4 linked regions of the Homo sapiens genome follow. The protein of the gene in region 3 purifies or fractionates together with the protein of the main gene of each other region. This does not show direct contact. Each region holds a gene or a part of one and is shown on either strand. Other genes may lie near its edges.

Region 1 (4,678 bases), on a different chromosome or scaffold from region 3:
CTCTGGAGGCTGCTACTAAAGATTCCACCTGGAGAAAGCATTCAGGGAGCAGTTTGGCTCACCCTGTCCAGATGGCTACCTGGAATGCACACACATGCTCACACATATATGCAGCATGCACACCTTTTGGCATTTGCCTTTTTCATGAAATAATTGCTGGAAGGCTCCTTGGATTAGGTAACCCAGCGTTCCTTCCTGTCCCCTTGGGGCTGGGGGCGGGGGAGAGAACCAGCATTTAGCATCTGTCAGGCTGCTCCAGTTCCTTTGGGGCAATGATGGCCAGTCCAGGAGGGTTTGTGGGCTCCAAACAACCTTGGGAGCAGAACATGATATGAACAAGCCTTTCAGACTTCTCCTTCCTGCAGGTCAGCTGGCTATGCATGCCCAGCCTCTGGGCCTCTTTCAGGCAGGCCAGGCTTGGGAAAAAGAAGGCCAATTAGGAAAGGTTTTTTGCACAAAGGAGGATATGTTCTCATTTTTATTTTAAATCAGCTTTATGATATAGCGAAAACTTAGAGTTAGCTTTGCCCATCATCCCATCGTCCTAAAGCAACACCTGTTTCCCTTCTTCCCTTTTCTGGTGATGGTTTGGGGTGTGCATTTGGAAGGGGGAACTATCTGGGTTCAGCCATAAAGAGCATTGAGAAGGAATAGGGGTAAGACCCCTGGCCTACGGGTAGAGGCCAGTGACTGAGACTCTCATTGCGGGAGGGGGCGATTAGTCGCAAAGCCGCCCATTCCAGGATTTGGAGATGCAGCTCCAGCACACCCTTCTTTCTCTGTCTGCCCTTAGCCTCTCCAGGATCTCCTAACGGAGGCCCCTTGGTGGGTCGGGAGCCTCTACCGACCACTAGTGGGAAGGGCACGAAGATCTTGCTATACAGAGTAGGACTGGGAGGGGACAGCGCGTAGTCGCAGAGTCAGGGAGGGGACCTCACCACCTGTCTCCTCCCTGAGGTCTTAGAACAGATACAAGAAATTCCAGGCGAAGGTCCCACAGGTGAGCGTGTGCCTGCGAGAGCCGTGGCCGCTGCATAGGGAGGGCCCCGCGGAGTGGGGCGGCAGCTGTGGGAGCTGTAGGTGTCCCCATTAGCCCGGGAGTCTCCGCCCCCGGAGGAACCTGGGCCTTGCGGGTGAGAGTCCCGAGCGAACGCGTCAGCCCGGGTGTGCTCTCTACGGTCCAGGGGGGCCAGGGCCTTCTTCGGGTGGGCCCGCCGCCCCTCCCGCAGGCCGCACGCCGCTCCTCCGGGGTCGCAGGGCTCAGTTAAGAGCCGGGGAGGGGAGAGGCTGGGCGAGCTCTCCCTCCGCACCGTCCCGCTGGGCTCCAGGGCAGGGGGGTGTCCCGGAGTCGTCCCCGGCTCCGCCCCCGAGGCCCCGCCCCGCGCCCGCCTCCCCGGCAGCCCCTCGAGCGAAGCCAGCCACGGACGGCCAGTCGCGGCCCGGAGCTGCGGAGCTCGGATCTTCTCCCCCGTCTGGCCCGCTCTCGACCCGCGCGCTCTGCTGGGCCATGGAGCCGGCCCCCGACGCCCAGGAGGCGCGCACTGTGCGCGAGGCGCTGGGCCGCTACGAGGCGGCGCTGGAGGGTGCGGTGCGCGCGCTGCACGAGGACATGCGGGGGCTGCAGCGCGGCGTGGAGCGGCGAGTGGCAGAGGCGATGCGCCTGGCCGGCCCCCTGGCGCGCACGGTGGCCGACCTGCAGCGGGACAACCAGCGGCTGCAGGCGCAGCTCGAGCGCCTGACGCGCCAGGTGGAGGCGCTGGGCTTGGCCAGCGGGATGTCCCCGGTGCCCGGCACTCCCGGCACGCCCAGCCCCCCGCCCGCGCCCGGGGTTCCCGACCGCGCGCCCCGCCTGGGCAGCGCACGCTTCGCCAGCCACGCCACCTTCTCGCTGTCCGGCCGCGGCCAGGTGAGCCCGGGGGAGCGCGTGCGCTGGCGCCAGGGAGTGGGGCTCCGAACCGGGTGCCGCCCCTTCGCCCCGACTGCCTGCCTCTGCTCGCGTCTGCGGGGTTGGGGCCTTCACCGGCCGCTCGGACTAGGTGATGGGGGTCCTGCCGCCCCTCCGGAGTTGGAGAGGGCGGGGGGAGGACCGCTGAGCCTGCCAGCTGCACCTGTCTTGGTCCTCCGCCCTGTTTTAGAGCCAGGCTCTGTTTGCTCAGAGTCCTGTCTCCCTCTCTCCTCTGTCCCATGACATCAACGGCTTGGGCGCCGAAGTCCGGCCCCTGACTGTTCAGCACTGCCTGGAGCCACGCGGGGCATGTTGGAATGGTCGACACCCCTGCCTGACCCCCACCCTCCATTCACGCTCCCCTGCGTTGCCGCTTCACTGAGGCCTGACGGCTCTGGTTATTGATTAACTCAGATTGAGAACTCAGGCCCCTGGATGGGTGGGGAGGGGGGTCGAGGGGGACGCGATCAGCAGCGGCTTTTGGGAACTCTCCATCGCAGGGGGTAAATCCCTTACCGTGAAGGGAGAGAGGTGGAAACCCGCCTTGAGCCGTGTCTAGATTCCTCGGGTCAGTGACTAGCCAGAGGCCCACACCACGTGGGGATAGGGCGGAGGCCGACGTGGACCAGTCACTACCTTGCGCATGGGCCACCCAGAGCAGTTAGAATGTGTCCATGGTGTGTGCAGTGGCCCTTGGGTGGGATTTTCCATCCTGATCAGGCATGTGCTCTCGGGTTGGGTTCCCAGGATCTGGGGCTGTGTAGCCTGCACCTGCTCCCTCCTTGGTGCAATCCCTGGGGCTCTCAGATTTCCCGCTGTGGGCTGGGCTGGACCCTAGGGGGCCTGGAGGAGGGTATCAGATTGGGCCTTCCCCCTGGAGGTCCCATCCAGGGTGGGAGATGGCCCCAGACCAAGTTTGGGCAGCCAGAGATGTTTTGCTCCAAACACAGTAGTTAGCCCCTTCTCAGTGGGTATCTCAGCAAGGCTTTGTGCTGGGGGCCTGGGGCTTGCTGCTACTGGTGCAGATGAGGGTGGGGTGGGGGCTGTGCAGGAAGCCTCAGAAAGGCTGAAAGTACTCACTGGTGAGTGCAGCCTCGAGGTATGCGAGTGGAGTGGGCAGTGGCGAATGCCCCTAGTGTGCTGGGCAGAGGAGTTGGGCTTTGCCCGGCCTGTAAGAAGTTCTTAAACATGTCATGGTAGCAGAACCCGGGAGTGTCCCAGTGCTCCGTGTGAAATGTCTGGAAATGTGGATACACTTAAGTCTGTCTTATGAACATGACACTCTACGTGACCATGGTCTAAAATCACCACTGTGAGCTCACACGTGCCTCATCAACTGTGTCATCGGTTGTTTCTGAGGTTTTATTTGAACATGCATTTGCTATTTGTCTGCTCATAGCAGCAGCTGTCCAAATTAAAAAAAAAAATGTCAGGTTCACATATACATGTAGATGTGTGTGTACACACAAAGAGAGAGAGAGAGAGAGAGAGAGAGAGGGAATTCTCTCCAGTCGTGATTTTTGTCAATGGAGATTAGCCATTGTTCACTGGCACCAAGCTAGTCCACTAGGTTAGGAGTTGGTGGATGAAGCTCAGGATGAGGGTCTTCTTTGTGTCTGGCAAGCCCTCTTCGGGGTGGATGGAAGGTGGAGGGTGGCTGGAGGTGGGTAACTTGATTGTGATGGTCCAAGGAGAAAGGAAAGGTCTGAGCTGGGCCGTGGGCCTTGGTGTGTAGAGGGGCTGCCTTGGACAGGGTTTCAGAGGGGGAATGAGCAGATGGGGTAGTCTCAGAGGGGAGCTCTGACTTGGGGGACTGCTGGGTCACAGATCTGGGGTGAGATGCTGGGTTCCACCCGGGTCGTGCTGAACATGAGGGGACTATGGGAACTCCAGGTGAAGCTGTCCCAGAGCAGGTGGATTCATGGATCTGGTGCTCCACACAGTGAGCAAGCCTGGAGATTAGGGAGCTCTCTGGGCAGAAGCAAAGAGTCTGAAGGAATTAAAAACCAGACCGGGGAACTGCCAGGGAGTGAGGAGGACCTGAGTGCACTCTCAGCAAACCAGAGAAGGAGCCCTCCTGGAAGAAGAGGCTGGGGTCAGTGAAGATGCGTCGGCCTGTTGGGGAGTGAAGATGGAGACCCAGGCACCCAGGGGCATGAGCAGCAAGGGTAGCTGAGCACTGTGGGTGGAACATGGCTATGGTCCCCAGTTGGGTTAGAGGCTCTGCACCCCTTGAGCCCTGGCTCCCGGGGCCTGAGGCAGCTGCCGCTGGGCTGACCCCCGAAGCACCAATCCCCATCTCTCTTGCTGTCCTCCGTCTCAGGAGCATTGTCACAGCCTCCAGACCAGTGTCCAGCATTGAGAGGAGGGACTGTGTGGAGCCATCCCCATGTGCTGGCTCGTGTCCTGTGACCAGCACGATGTGATCAAGAGCTTGGTCACACTCAAGGAGCCGGGGCTCAGGGTGAGACTGGAGTGTGGACCATGGACATAGAGTCACAGCCCCACACCAGGCTGCTGGGTGTCTGACCTCTCAGACTTTGTGTCTGTGTAGTGGGGGTCTGGGTGGGACAATCTCATCCCATCCACATGAGCCAGGGATGGCTGTACTACCTGGCATTGTAGAGGTTGGTGTCACACTACCCCTCTGTAACAAGCAATGACATTTAGAGACCCAGTTCCTTTCAAACTGGGGACTGAAGGATTGGAGGTAGATTGTCTCCAATATATAAA
Region 2 (4,230 bases), on a different chromosome or scaffold from region 3:
TTCACAGTACAATTTGTTGAAAAAACTGTCCTTTCTCCATTGAATGGTCTTGGCACCTTCGTCAAAAATCATTTAACTATATATGTGAGAGTTTATTTCTGGGTACTCTATTGTATTCCATCGGTCTGTATGTCTGTTTTTATGCCATTACCACAGTATTTATGATTCCCTCTGTCTAGTGGTGGTTCCTGGGTCCAGTTTTATAGAACCCAGGACCTGAACTTTGCTATTTTGAAGGTGGCAGTAGAGAAGAGCATCACAGAAGTTGCTCAGGAGCTGACAGAGCTGGTGGAACATCTTGTAGACATTGTCAGAAGCCTGCAGAATCAGAGGCCCCTATCAGAATCTGGACCAGACAACGAACTGAGCATCCTGGGCAAGGTAGGCTCCACTGGGAGAGGAAAGGATGTGGAAGGGAATAGGGCTAGGGATTGCTTTCAACTGGAACAACATGAACATATTTGAACCTGAAGGATACAATAAGTCTCAATCTTTTATTGTTCTCTTTACTACCAGACATGGATGATTGGACATTTGGAATGCTTGAGGTAAGGTTGGGAAGCTTCAGATGGGCTAGGATCACTCCACCTAACAAGCTGTCTCTAAGATCACCAGTGACCTCTGTGTATAACGTTCTGGTGCCTGTCTCTATAAGCGTTCTGGTGCCTGTCTTCATTGACCTTTCAGCAGCCTTTGACACTGTGGACCACACCTTCATTCTTAGCTTTTGGGACAGGAATCTTTTGGCTTTCCCCCACCTCTCTCTGGCTGATCCTTCTCAGTCTGTTTACAGGCTCTCTCTCCTCTGCTTAGGAATTAAATGCTGGAGTTCCTCAAGGCTGAGTTGTAGGTCCCTTTGTTTCCCCTGCAGGTAGTCTTCCCTGCATCCATGGCTTTAATGACCACCTCTATGCACAAATAATAGCTCCAGGCTGGAGCCTTCTCTGAGCACTAGGCTGCTATGTCTTCCTTCTCATCTTTTCTTCTTGGGTATCTCAAAGCATCACACTTAATGCGTCCTAAACTGCTCCTCTTCTGGGATTTCTCATCTCAATGCTTGCCCCATTATCTTTCCAAGTACAGAAGCCAGAGACCTGGAAATCATGTTACCTTCTTCTCCCTTACCCTAATATGCAGCATATTGTAGCTTTAAGACCTGCCTAATTACCTCTCAAATCTATTTACTTATTCTTGAGCTCCTTTGAGACTTGCTCTAATCCAAGCCTCTGATAATTTCATGTCTGGATTGCTGTCATAGTCTTCCAAATGCTCCACTCTCCCTCTTCTAGTCTGTTTTCCTCATGGTCATCACAGTGACTACCACAAACATCAATCTGAAAATGTAACTCATCTGCTTAAAACATTCAAATTACATCAGTTTGCTCAGGAGTAAGACCCAAATCCTCACAGGACCAGCAAAGCCCTGTAGGATCCCATCTCTGTCTGCCTCTCAAATCTCATCTCTGCTCATGCTGCCTGGCTCTGTGCGCTCTAGCTACACTGGCCGCACAGTCGCTCTAGTGTGTCTCACGTCTTCCCACTACAGGGCACCCTTCATGGAATGCTCTCCTTTCCCTCCATCACTTAGGTAATACTTGCTCATCCTTCAGATCCTAGCTAGAACGTCATTTCTTCAGAAAGAAGCCTTCAATGATTTCCTTGAACAAATCAAATCTCCCCATTAGAGGCTCTGAGGACTCCATGTACCTTTCATTTGTAGTGGTTATCACCATTGCACCTTTGTAATGTCTTGTGCCATACTCTATATTAATGTCTGCCCCCCTCCCTTTTCCTTCACTGGACTCTCAACTTCAGGAGGATAGGGACTTTTGATGCTTTTTTTTTTTTTGAGACAGAGTCTTGCTGGAGTGCAGTGGCGTGATCTCAGCTCATTGCAACCTCCGCCTCCTAGGTTCAAGTGATTCTCCTGCCTCAGCCTGCCGAGTAGCTGGGACTACAGGTGTCCGCCACCACTCCTGGCTAATTTTTGTATTTTTAGTAGAGACGGGGTTTCACCATACTGGCCAGTCTGGCCTCAAACTCCTGACCTTGTGATCCACCTGCCTCGGCCTCCCAAAGTGCTGGGATTACAGGCGTGCGCCACATTGCCTGGCTGATGCTTTTGTTCTTTTGTCCACCATTGTGTCCCCAGGCGCTAGCACAGTACCCAAGTACCCACTTACAGTAGGGGTTCAACAAATACCCACTGAATGTATGGATAAATCCATCTTTAGGGATGCGATGTGTTGGGATAGAAACGCTGAGAGTCTGACTTTCAGAATTGACATTGTCACTCACTAGTATTATGACCTTGGGCAAGTCATTTCATCTATCTGCGTCTCAGGTTCCTATCTGTAATATAGAAATAATGATACAGGGCCTGCCACATCATTGGTTTATTGTGAGGATTAAAAGAGGTATAAGAAAGTGCTTGAGCAATGTTAAAATGTGGGATGTTATAATTAACTGTGGCAATTTAGTTAACCTTCATGAATTTCATCTTCTTTTGTAAAACGGAGATTTTTTACAGGTTGATAAACCTACTTTGTGAGGTTGTTATGCAAATGAGAGAAAGGCAATATCTAGCATGTAGAAAACACTCAATAAGTGTAATACTACCGTATTTTGATTGGTGGAAAGAATGGGGAGTGGATTATGCAAAGGTGGGAAGGAAAGGGGTTGAAGTTGGTGAGCAGATAAAGGGCTGTATTGGGGAAGAACAGGACCTGAGGCTAAAGAAAATCAGGGAGCATGTGTTGAAGGCCCTAGAAAGCAGGACCTGGATGCAGGCAATTTGAGAGGGAGCTCTTGCGAAGTGAAATGATATAATGATAGAGGTGGGAAAAGGTTCCTTTTTTTTTTTTTGTGAAATGGAGTCTTGCTCTGTCGCCCAGGTTGTAGTGCAGTGGCATGATCTTCTCAGCTCAGTACAACCTCTACCTCCCGGGTTCAAGTGATTGTCCTGCCTCAGCCTCCCATGTAGTTGGGATTACAGGCACTTGCCATCATGCCTGGCTAATTTTTGTATTTTTAGTACAGACAGGGTTTCACCATGTTGGCCAGGCTGGTCTCGGATTCCTGACTTCAGGTGTTCTACCCTCCTCAGCCTTCCAAAGTGCTGGGATTACAGGTGTGAGCCACCACACCTAGCCGAAAAGGTTATTCTGACCTCCATGGTTTATCTCAGTAACTATCTGTAGTATTTATTTTATAAAGCCCCTATAAGATGCGCCTAGAAATGTTAAACTTTTTTGGTATTACCTAAGAAATCCATGTTTATTGTGCAAAATATTAGAAAGCACATAGCATTAAATAAAGCAAATTAAAGTGCTCCATAACTCCATCACCCAGAAATAACCACTCTTTGATATTTTTGCTGTACTATGTACAGCAAATTATTCCAGATTTTTTTCAAGGCATATTTTTTGAGGGCCTAATTTTGTTTTTAAAAACTTGCTGGGAATTAAATAGAAAATTATAGATGAATAGAAAAACTTGAATATAATAGTTGATAGACTGCATAGGGGACTTCCATTTATTCAGTTTTAAATGGTTTATCAATAGGCTTTTTCTTCTGGGGTGGATCTTTCCATGGCTTCTCCAAAGCTGGTGACTTCCGACACAGCTGCAGGGAAAATCAGAGATATTCTCCATGACCTAGAAGAAATTCAGGAAAAATTACAAGAAAGCGTCACCTGGAAAGAGGCTCCTGAAGCACAAATGCAGGGTGAGCTGATCTTATTTATTGGAGGAGGATTAAATATGGAAGTTGGGGGGAGTAGCAGAGTGCTCTATGGCTTTGTTCTCTGGGGATAGGATCCCAGAGTCCAGCTGTATTACCACTGTGGTGTCGTGAATCAGGTAGGGGTGGGCTGAAGTGATTTTGTGGCTGAATATGTTTTTGGCAATGACTGAAGGTGTGATGTATCACAAGTCCTTAATAGATAGAAACTCATTTTTGAAGATCCATGCACACAGGTCCTTACTGATCAAGTGTGTTATCTTACTGCAGAGATTCTGAAATAGGCCACTTTTAATTTTTTTTTTTTTTTTTTTTTTTTTTTTTGTGATGGAGTCTCACTCTGTCGCCCAGGCTGGAGTGCAGTGGCACCATCTGGGCTCACTGCAAGCTCTGCCTCCTGGGTTCATGCCATTCTCCTGCCTCAGCCTCCCCAGTAGCTGGGACTACAGGTGCCCGCCACCATGCTGGCTAATTTTTTGTGTTTTTGA
Region 3 (4,230 bases):
AAGAACTTCAGACAGGCTGCCGATAGAGGGGCTGGTGTTTGAGAGTGCCGTCTCTGAGAAGGGGTCTTTTCCTAAACCCCAGGGAGGAGAAAACAACAACCATGGACAGAGCTGGGAGAACCACATTCCAGGGGGAGGCAACGCCAAGTGCAAAGGCCCTGAAGCATGACCATTCTTGGCAAATGCAAGATGCAGGAAGCAGGTTAGCATGGCCAGAGCAGAGTGAGGGGAATCGTGGAAAGTGAGGTTGGAGTGGGTGGGAAAGGGCCATGTGAGTCATTATAAGGTCTTCTGCTGTCCTCTGTCCCTGCAATGAATGATGAGCTCCCAGGGACAGCGCCCTGCAGCCAGAACCAGGTGCAAGCAGAGTGCTCAGTATCAATGTGGAACCAGTGGTGGCTTTCTTCTGGCCAGCCAGCCTGAGTCTCCCTCCACAGGCTCTGTGCACATCCAGGACCTTTCTCCCATCAGCCCATGCCAGGACCTGGCCAAGAACATTCTGTGCTGGAGATCTCACAAGGGGGTCTGAGACAGTGGCACCAGCTTTGGCCGGGAGATGGGAACCTCCTGCTCCACATCCTGAGTTTGGCCTCAGCTGGCCACCCCTGCATGCCCCAAGTAGCAGGGGAAGCCAGGAGGACTTGTCCCACCTGGTTCTTGATGTTGTCGATCTCAGCCTGCAGCCTCTGGATGGCCCGGTTCATCTCTGAAATCTCATTCCGGGTATTCCGGAGGTCGTCCCCATGCTTCCCAGCCTGGGCCTGGAGGGTCTCAAACTGGAGGGGCCATACAGAGAGTTATGGCAGAGAGATGGGCAGTGAGTACAGGTAACTCATCCCTCTCCCCACCCAAGGCCCCTCCCAACTTATATTTTCAGGGAAGGACAGTCTGACTCCCATCAACCTTTGCCCGATGCCAGGAGACCAGACAGCAGTGTGAGGAAGGGATTCATTCTCCTCCAAGCCAGGCAGGGAGGACAGACAAGGCTCCGCAGTCCCATCCCCATGGACCCCAGGGCTCTTCCACTCCCACCATGCCCTTCTGCTGGAGAATCACTGAGAGTTTGAGATTCGCACCCATTCAACACCCAGAACACCCATTTCACAGGTGAGGAGAGTGAGTCTTGGAGAAGAGAAAGCACCACCCAGGGATCACACAGCCAATCAGTGATGGAACGAGGGCCTGAACCCAGGTCTTCTTGTTGGCATACTTGTGTTCTCACCCAGGCACCATGAATGACTCTCTATCTCTGCAGGGGCAGACCTCTCAATCCTTGCCTCGGGATCCCTTCTTCAGGAACACTGGTTCACCCCAGCACCCACTCCTGCTCCCTCAGCCCCTGCACCATCAACTGTCCTGCCACCATGAAGTAGATGTGATGATTAAGCCTCCCAGGTCTAGGGCCCTCACATTCAGGATTTAGTCCCTGCTCTTCCATCTACTAGCTGTATGCAGTTAGGCAAATTACTTAACCTCTCTGTGCCTCAATTTCCTCATCTTTAAATGGGGGTAATAGGCTGGGTGCGGTGTCTCACGCCTATAATCCCAGCACTTTGGGAGGCCGAGGCAGGTGGATCACCTGAGGTCAGGAGTTTGAGACCAGCCTGGCCAGCATGGTGAAACCTCGTCTCTACTCAAAATACAAAAAAAATTAGCCAGGCATGGTGGTGCACACCTGTAGTCCCAGCTACTCAGGAGGCTGAGGCACGAGGATCACATGAACCAGGGAGGCAAAGGTTGCAGTGAGCCAAGATCGCACCACTGCACTTCAGCCTGGGTGACAGAGCAAGACTCCATCTCAAAAAATAGAAATAAAATAAATTAAATTAAATAAAACAAAATGGGGGTAATAATGATGCCTATCTAATAGGGCTGTTCTGTGGATTACATGAGTCAATAATTACATGAGCCTAGTACTGTGTAAGTACTTGCCATATTTTAGCTATTATAATGATTAATCCATATCTATTTCCTCTGCCCTGTCCTCCCATCTTGGGATTTTCTCCAGGGCTGAGCACCACAGACTTAAACCACTGGTGCCTGCCAGAACAGTGGGACCCAGGCCCTGAAGGCTTGAGACAAGTTGAGGAGTAAGGGAAGCTGCCACCAAGGACCCTGGCAGGAGGAAATACGCCCCTGGTGGCCTCACACCTTGGTCTGGTACCAGGCTTCAGCCTCAGCCCGGCTGCATTTGGCCATCTCCTCATACTGCGCCTTGACCTCAGCGATGATGCCGTCCAGGTCCAGGGAGCGACTGTTGTCCATGGACAGCACCACAGATGTGTCGGAGATCTGGGACTGCAGCTCTGTCAACTCCTGTAGGGACCAGACGGGACATCAGGACTTAGGGCAGGATCCTATGCCCACGCCCACCCTGGGATTCCCCACTCACAAAGGAAAGAAAAGAGAGAACAGCTGGGAGTGGGCTGAGTCACCAGGCAGCAAGGGGGCCCAGACCCAGCACACATTAAGTTACTTCATTCTGCCCACCCTTGGCTCCCTGAGGGCCCATTAGCAGTGTCTCAAACGAGAATCTGGCAGGGTTAAAGGGGATAAGGAAAGGGACAGTGTGGTGCGCTGTGGTGACTTCTCACTGTGAGGTTCTGTAGGTGCACGAGCTCTATTGTGAGGGAGGCCATGGGGAATGGATGAAATTATCATATTCCACCATGCTACAGAATACTCTGCAGTCTGTACACCGATGATATGGCTCCAACTACCTGTGGGGAATATGCCCATGGTATACTGTTGCATTAAAAAAAGCATGATGCGTTCTCACTCATAGGTGGGAATTGAACAATGACATCACTTGGGCACAGGGCGGGGAACATCACACACCGGGGCCTGTCGGGGGCGTGGGGGGAGGGGGGAGTGATAGCATTAGGAGAAATACCTAATGTAAATGACAAGTTGATGGGTGCAGCACACCAACATGGCACATGTATGCCTATGTATCAAACCTGCACGTTGTGCACATGTACCCTAGAACTTAAAGTATAATAATAAAAATTAAAATAAAGCATGATGCTATTTTTATTGAAAATGTATATTTCTATATCTTTATGTATATGTAAGCACAGAAAAGTCTGGAAAGGTAGACACAAAGATGGTAGCATTGGGTATAAGTAATCCATTTTCTTTTTTTTTTCTTTTTTTTTGAGACAGAGTTTTGCTCTGTCACCCAAGCTGGAGTACAGTGGCACAATCTTGGCTCACTGCAACCTCCACCTTCCAGGTTCAACCAGTTCTCCTGTCTCAGCCTCCCGTGTAGCTGGGATTACAGGCACCCGCCACCATGCCTGGCTAATTTTTGTATTTTTAGTAGACACGGGGTTTCACCATGTTGGCCAGGCTGGTCTCCAACTCCTGACATCAGGTGATCCACTCACCTCGGCCTCCCAAACTACTGGGATTACAGGCATGAGCCACCACGCCTGGCCAAGTAATCCATTTTCAATTTACGATTTACTTAATTTTTTGGTTGTTTTGCAATGAGTATGTATTACTTTCACCATGAAAACAACTTTATATATATACACACAGGTGTGTTTACACATAAATAAACTAAACTTTCACCATGAAAAGAAAACTTTATATATATGTGTGTGTGTGTGTGTGTGTGTGTACACATGTGTGTTTACACATAAATAAACCATGTGATAGACCCAGGAAGACCTGAGATTAGAAGTGCCTGAAGCAAGCCTCAAAGAAACTTCCCCTGAAATTAATGAATCTGTGGACATTTGCTCTGAGGGGCTGGTGGAGACTGGACGTTCAGGCAAAGACTAGGCTGAAGAACTGGTTTGTAATTAACCTCACAAGCTAATTATGCCCAGCCTAGCCTCTGCCAGGTGACTGGCCACCCTACCTTCTGCCTAAGGCCAGAGACTCACACTGATGAGAGTGGAGAGATTTTTAAATCCCCTTGAAGAAAAAGAGCTGGAAACCCCGGAGGACAAGGGTGAGAGGGAGAGAATAAGAAGGGAAGGGAGGACATTAGAGTGGTGAGTTGGCAGGCAGCTACCCACCCAGCCCCTCTGGGAGTAAATGCTCAGGCAATCCAGTCTCTCCTGACTTGGGCTCCCCTGCTGGCCCTACCTAGCCCACCTTTGAACCCTGTCACAACCTGGAGTCCCCTGACCTCCTCCTGGTTCCTTCCAGTCCCACCCAATCCCCCTTCCTTAGAAATGCTGCGATCATCCCATGTCTCTCCAAGGTCAATCCTGATTG
Region 4 (4,230 bases), on a different chromosome or scaffold from region 3:
AATAATTGAAGTTATCCTTTTTTGTTTGTTTATATAAACCCTAGTGATTGGCACAAAGGTATTCATTTGTGCACCTTTAAAGAGACAGTATAGTTCTTTCAGGTTTTTAGGGAGCAGAGGCTTGATCCTGTCCCTGAGCTGTTTGTTGTGGCATTAAATGGAAATCTATGGATCTTTAAATCTTTTGAGTGCATGAATTGCTTTTTGTAGTTCTTGAGCTCATTGCCATAATCCGTTTCTCATATTTCTTTGTTTCATGGAATGACCTCTTTATTTTTGTTTCAGTTCGAGATAAGTTGCGGGAGATAGTAGGAGCATCCACAAACTGGAGGTATGCATCTTTGTTTTCATTCATTCTTTTCATCCCCAAGGTATTATACTACACTGTATTTAGGCTCAGTTGATGGTCTCACAGTGGGGATGGGGAGCCCTATGTTCAGAGATAGGTTGAGAAGTATTTTGCTTGGGGGAGAAGGTCAACATTTCAACATACTCATCAGATGACACCTCATTGTCATGAAAGAAGATGATTTACGTATATTCTGCATTTTCAAAGTGCATTTAGGTGTATATTACTTCACTGATTCTCATAACAAAACTTGTGACGTGCTTACGACATATGTTCCTGTTCCTTTTTTTACACATGAAACTGAAACTCAGAGATTGAATGATTAAATGTCAGGGTTTGGGACTTGAACCCAAGTCGCTAAGTTTCTCTGTTTCATGCAACTTGACTCCTTTATTGCTTCTTGTCAGTTCAAAATTAGTCAGGCCTCCCATATTGTCTTTCTCTTTCTCGCAGTATTTCCTTGTTGTAAAGTAGGATCATATCCCTCTTGGTGTACATAATTTTGAGGCTAAAATGAGATAGAAAAAACACGAGTGATCACTAGATATATAATAATCTATTGTTGGTATAGAAATTATCTAATGACTTATTTTTAAATTCTTTATATGAAAAATTTCACTTTACTAAAAGGTAGAAAGAATGAATACCTGTGTACCCACCACCTGGATTCCATACTTATTAATATTTTGCCAAATTTTCCAATATACACATATTGCCTGAACCATTTCTAAGTAAATTATAGACACCATGACACTTCAGCGTGCATCTTCAGTAAACATTTTATAAAACCAGCCTTCGCTTATCTCCAACAAATAAGACATTCTCTCATGTAATCAAATTGACAGCAATTCCTTGCTAGTATATTACTCATCCATAGTCACATTTCCTCAACTGTTACCATTTTGTGTAATAGATTACTCCTTTTAACAAAAATGTTTTTATAGCTGTTTAAAAAACATCAAGATCCAATAAAGGATTGCATGTTGCATCTGGTGGTTATGACTCTTTAGTCTTCCCTAATCTAGAGTAATGGACAGTCGTCCTTCCCCTATTCTTCCCCCATGAGCTTGACTTTAAGGAGGCCAAGCCATTTGTCTTGAGAATGTTCCACATTCTGGATTTACTGGTGTCATTTAACTCATTCCTCTATCTCCTGTAGTTTTTGTAGGGTAAACATTTCTGGAAATAATACTTTATAAGTTAAGCTTAGAAAGACATCTTAGCTAATGTTCTTATCAACATTGTCGTTCCGTATCCCCTTGTCTTTCTTTTCTCTTTCACCTTAATCTTCTCTTCTTTTTCTTCCCTTTCTGTCTCCTTTTCATGTTATGTTCTTCTTTACCTTTTGTTCTGCCTTCCATACTTCCTTTGGATATAGTCCATTTTCCCTCCTCTGTCTCTCTTTCCTGAAATTGAAGGCAGAGAGAGAGAGAGAACTGGGGCTCAAAGAATCCGAGAACTGTCAGGTGAGAAATGGGAATATAAAGTAGAGTGGCCAAGCCATTCTTTAGCATATATATTTATATGTATATATATATACTATTTTGTCCATCTCTCTAAATTTTTAATTTAATTTCAAATATTCTGGTCTTTGAGTAAACTTTTTGATAAGGGTGAATATATGGCTCATTTGGGTATATCTATATCAGTTTTAAGTTTTCTTTTTTTTTTTTTTTTTTGAGACAGTCTTGCTCTGTTGCCCAGGCTGGAGTGCAGTGGTGTGATCTTGGCTCATTGCAACCTCCGCCTCCCACGTTCAAGCAATTCTCCTGCCTCAGCCTACCAAGTAGCTGGGATTACAGGTGCCCACCACCACACCTGGCTAATTTTTTGTATTTTTAGTAGAGACGGAGTTTTGCCATGTTGGCCAGGCTGGTCTTGAACCCCTGACCTCGTGTGATCCACCCGCCTTGGCCTCCCAAAATGCTGGGATTACAGGCGTGAGACACTGCACCTGGCCTTAAGAATGTTTTTAAGCTTGAGAAATGATACCGGAAATGATCAATTTCACCAAGTGGCAGGTGGGAAGGGAGGGAAGGAAGAGAAGGTGAAAGTAGGCCCAGACCTTCTTTTTCCTCCTTTGATGGTATCTTACTGGCCTGTGTACCACTGGAATTGTGGGCTAGAACTGCTCTTGTTTTATGAATCCTGCATCCTTTCTTCTCAGAGACCATGTGAAGGCAATGGAAGAAAGGAAATTACTTCATAGTTTCTTGGCTAAATCACAGGATGGACTGCCTCCTAGGAGAATGAAGGACAGTTATATTGAAGTTCTCTTGCCTTTGGGCAGTGAGCCTGAATTACGAGAGAAATATTTGACTGTTCAAAACACCGTAAGGTAACACAGTGCTATTTTTATGTATTTGTTTTTATTTCCTTGTTTTATAACAATTTTGAAATATAATTCACACACCATACAATTCGCCTGTTTAAAGTGTACAGTTCCATGGTTTTGATATATTTAGAGAGTTGTGCATCCATCACCACAGTCAATTTTAGAACATTTTCATCACCCTGAAGTGTGTTATTTATTTTTAAAGGGAGACCAACATGATTTGCATTTAATTCACTGTTTGCTTTATTTCACAGATTTGGCAGGATTCTTGAGGATCTTGACAGCTTGGGAGGTACTGGTATTATTTTAGTCTTTCTAATAGATACCTACAGATATACATTGAATTCTGTGACTGGAAAGGGCTCTTTTATTCTTTAACCTGCACAGATGATGATATTCTAAAGTGCACAAAAAAAGAAGGACATCGGCCGGGCGTGGTGGCTCATGCCTGTAATCCCAGCACTTTGGGAGGCTGAGGCGGGCGGATCACTTGAGGTTGGGAGTTTGAGACCAGCCTGACCAACATGGAGAAACCCCGTCTCTACTAAAAATACAAAATTAGCCAGTTGTGTTGGTGGGCGCCGTAATCCCAGCTACTTGGGAGGCTGAGGCAAGAGAATCACTTGAACCTGGGAGGCAGAGGTTGCGGTGAGCTGAGATCGTGCCATTGCACTACAGCCTGGGTAACAAGAGTGAAACTCCATCTCCAAAAAAAAAAAAAAAAAATGGCATCTACTACTTCTGAATTGTCATAATTTTTTTCTTATAAATGTAGATTCCTATTTAATGGAGGTATAGTCTGAATAATCTTTCTTACTAGTAACTTTAAAAAAAGAAAGTCTTAAACTTACAGAAAAGTTGCAAATACAGTATAAAGAATTTTTCTGTGGCCAGGCGCGGTGGCTCACGCCTATAATCCCAGCACTTTGGGAGGCTGAGGCAGGCAGATCACAAGGTCAGGAGATCGAGACCATCCTGGCTAACATGGTGAAACCCCATCTCTACTAAAAATACAAAAAATTAGCCAGGCGTGGTGGCATACGCCTGTAGTCCCAGCTATTCAGGAGGCTGAGGCAGGAGAATCACTTGAACCTGGGAGGTGGAGGTTGCATTGAGCCGAGATCGCGCCACTGCACTCCAGCCTGGGCGACAGAGTGAGACTCCGTCTCAAAAATAAAAAAGAAAAAAATTTTTTGTCCCTGAATTATGTGAGAATAAGTGGCTGACATGATGCCACATCACCCCCAAATATTTGAATATGTCTTTCCTACAAACAAGGACATTCTTCTACATAACTACAAAACAACCATAAAAAATCAGGAAATTAACACTGATGTGTCATACTGTCTAATCCTCAGGTCCCATTCAACTTTTGCCAGTGGTCCTTCATAGCAGAAGGATCCAGTTCTGAATCATATGTTGATTTAATTGTCATGTCAGGACTAGTTCCTTAATCTTTCTTTGACTTTCGTGACTTTGACATGGTTCTTTTGTGTATTGTCCCTCAATTTGGGTCTGTGTGGTGCTTCCTCATGATTAGCTTTGG

What was found.
Region 1: the proteins of KRT7 (region 3) and SMTNL2 purify together in Homo sapiens (affinity purification with mass spectrometry; one large-scale study listed by BioGRID and IntAct). This does not show direct contact.
Region 2: the proteins of KRT7 (region 3) and RNF135 purify together in Homo sapiens (affinity purification with mass spectrometry; one large-scale study listed by BioGRID and IntAct). This does not show direct contact.
Region 4: the proteins of KRT7 (region 3) and ACOT9 purify together in Homo sapiens (affinity purification with mass spectrometry; one large-scale study listed by BioGRID and IntAct). This does not show direct contact.

The regions. Positions count from the first base shown.
Region 1 is NC_000017.11:4,583,099-4,587,776, forward strand, and holds the start of SMTNL2 (smoothelin-like protein 2), read left to right. Parts: upstream 1-1,430; 5' UTR 1,431-1,507; coding exon 1,508-1,906; intron 1,907-4,678.
Region 2 is NC_000017.11:30,984,380-30,988,609, forward strand, and holds part of RNF135 (E3 ubiquitin-protein ligase RNF135), read left to right. Parts: intron 1-237; coding exon 238-381; intron 382-3,564; coding exon 3,565-3,727; intron 3,728-4,230.
Region 3 is NC_000012.12:52,239,558-52,243,787, reverse strand, and holds part of KRT7 (keratin, type II cytoskeletal 7), read right to left. Parts: intron 2,317-4,230; coding exon 2,152-2,316; intron 777-2,151; coding exon 651-776; intron 1-650.
Region 4 is NC_000023.11:23,729,273-23,733,502, reverse strand, and holds part of ACOT9 (acyl-coenzyme A thioesterase 9, mitochondrial isoform a precursor), read left to right. Parts: intron 1-285; coding exon 286-331; intron 332-2,516; coding exon 2,517-2,687; intron 2,688-2,938; coding exon 2,939-2,976; intron 2,977-4,230. UniProt on the Homo sapiens protein: Mitochondrial acyl-CoA thioesterase. Catalyzes the hydrolysis of acyl-CoAs into free fatty acids and coenzyme A (CoA), regulating their respective intracellular levels. Regulates both mitochondrial lipid and amino acid metabolism.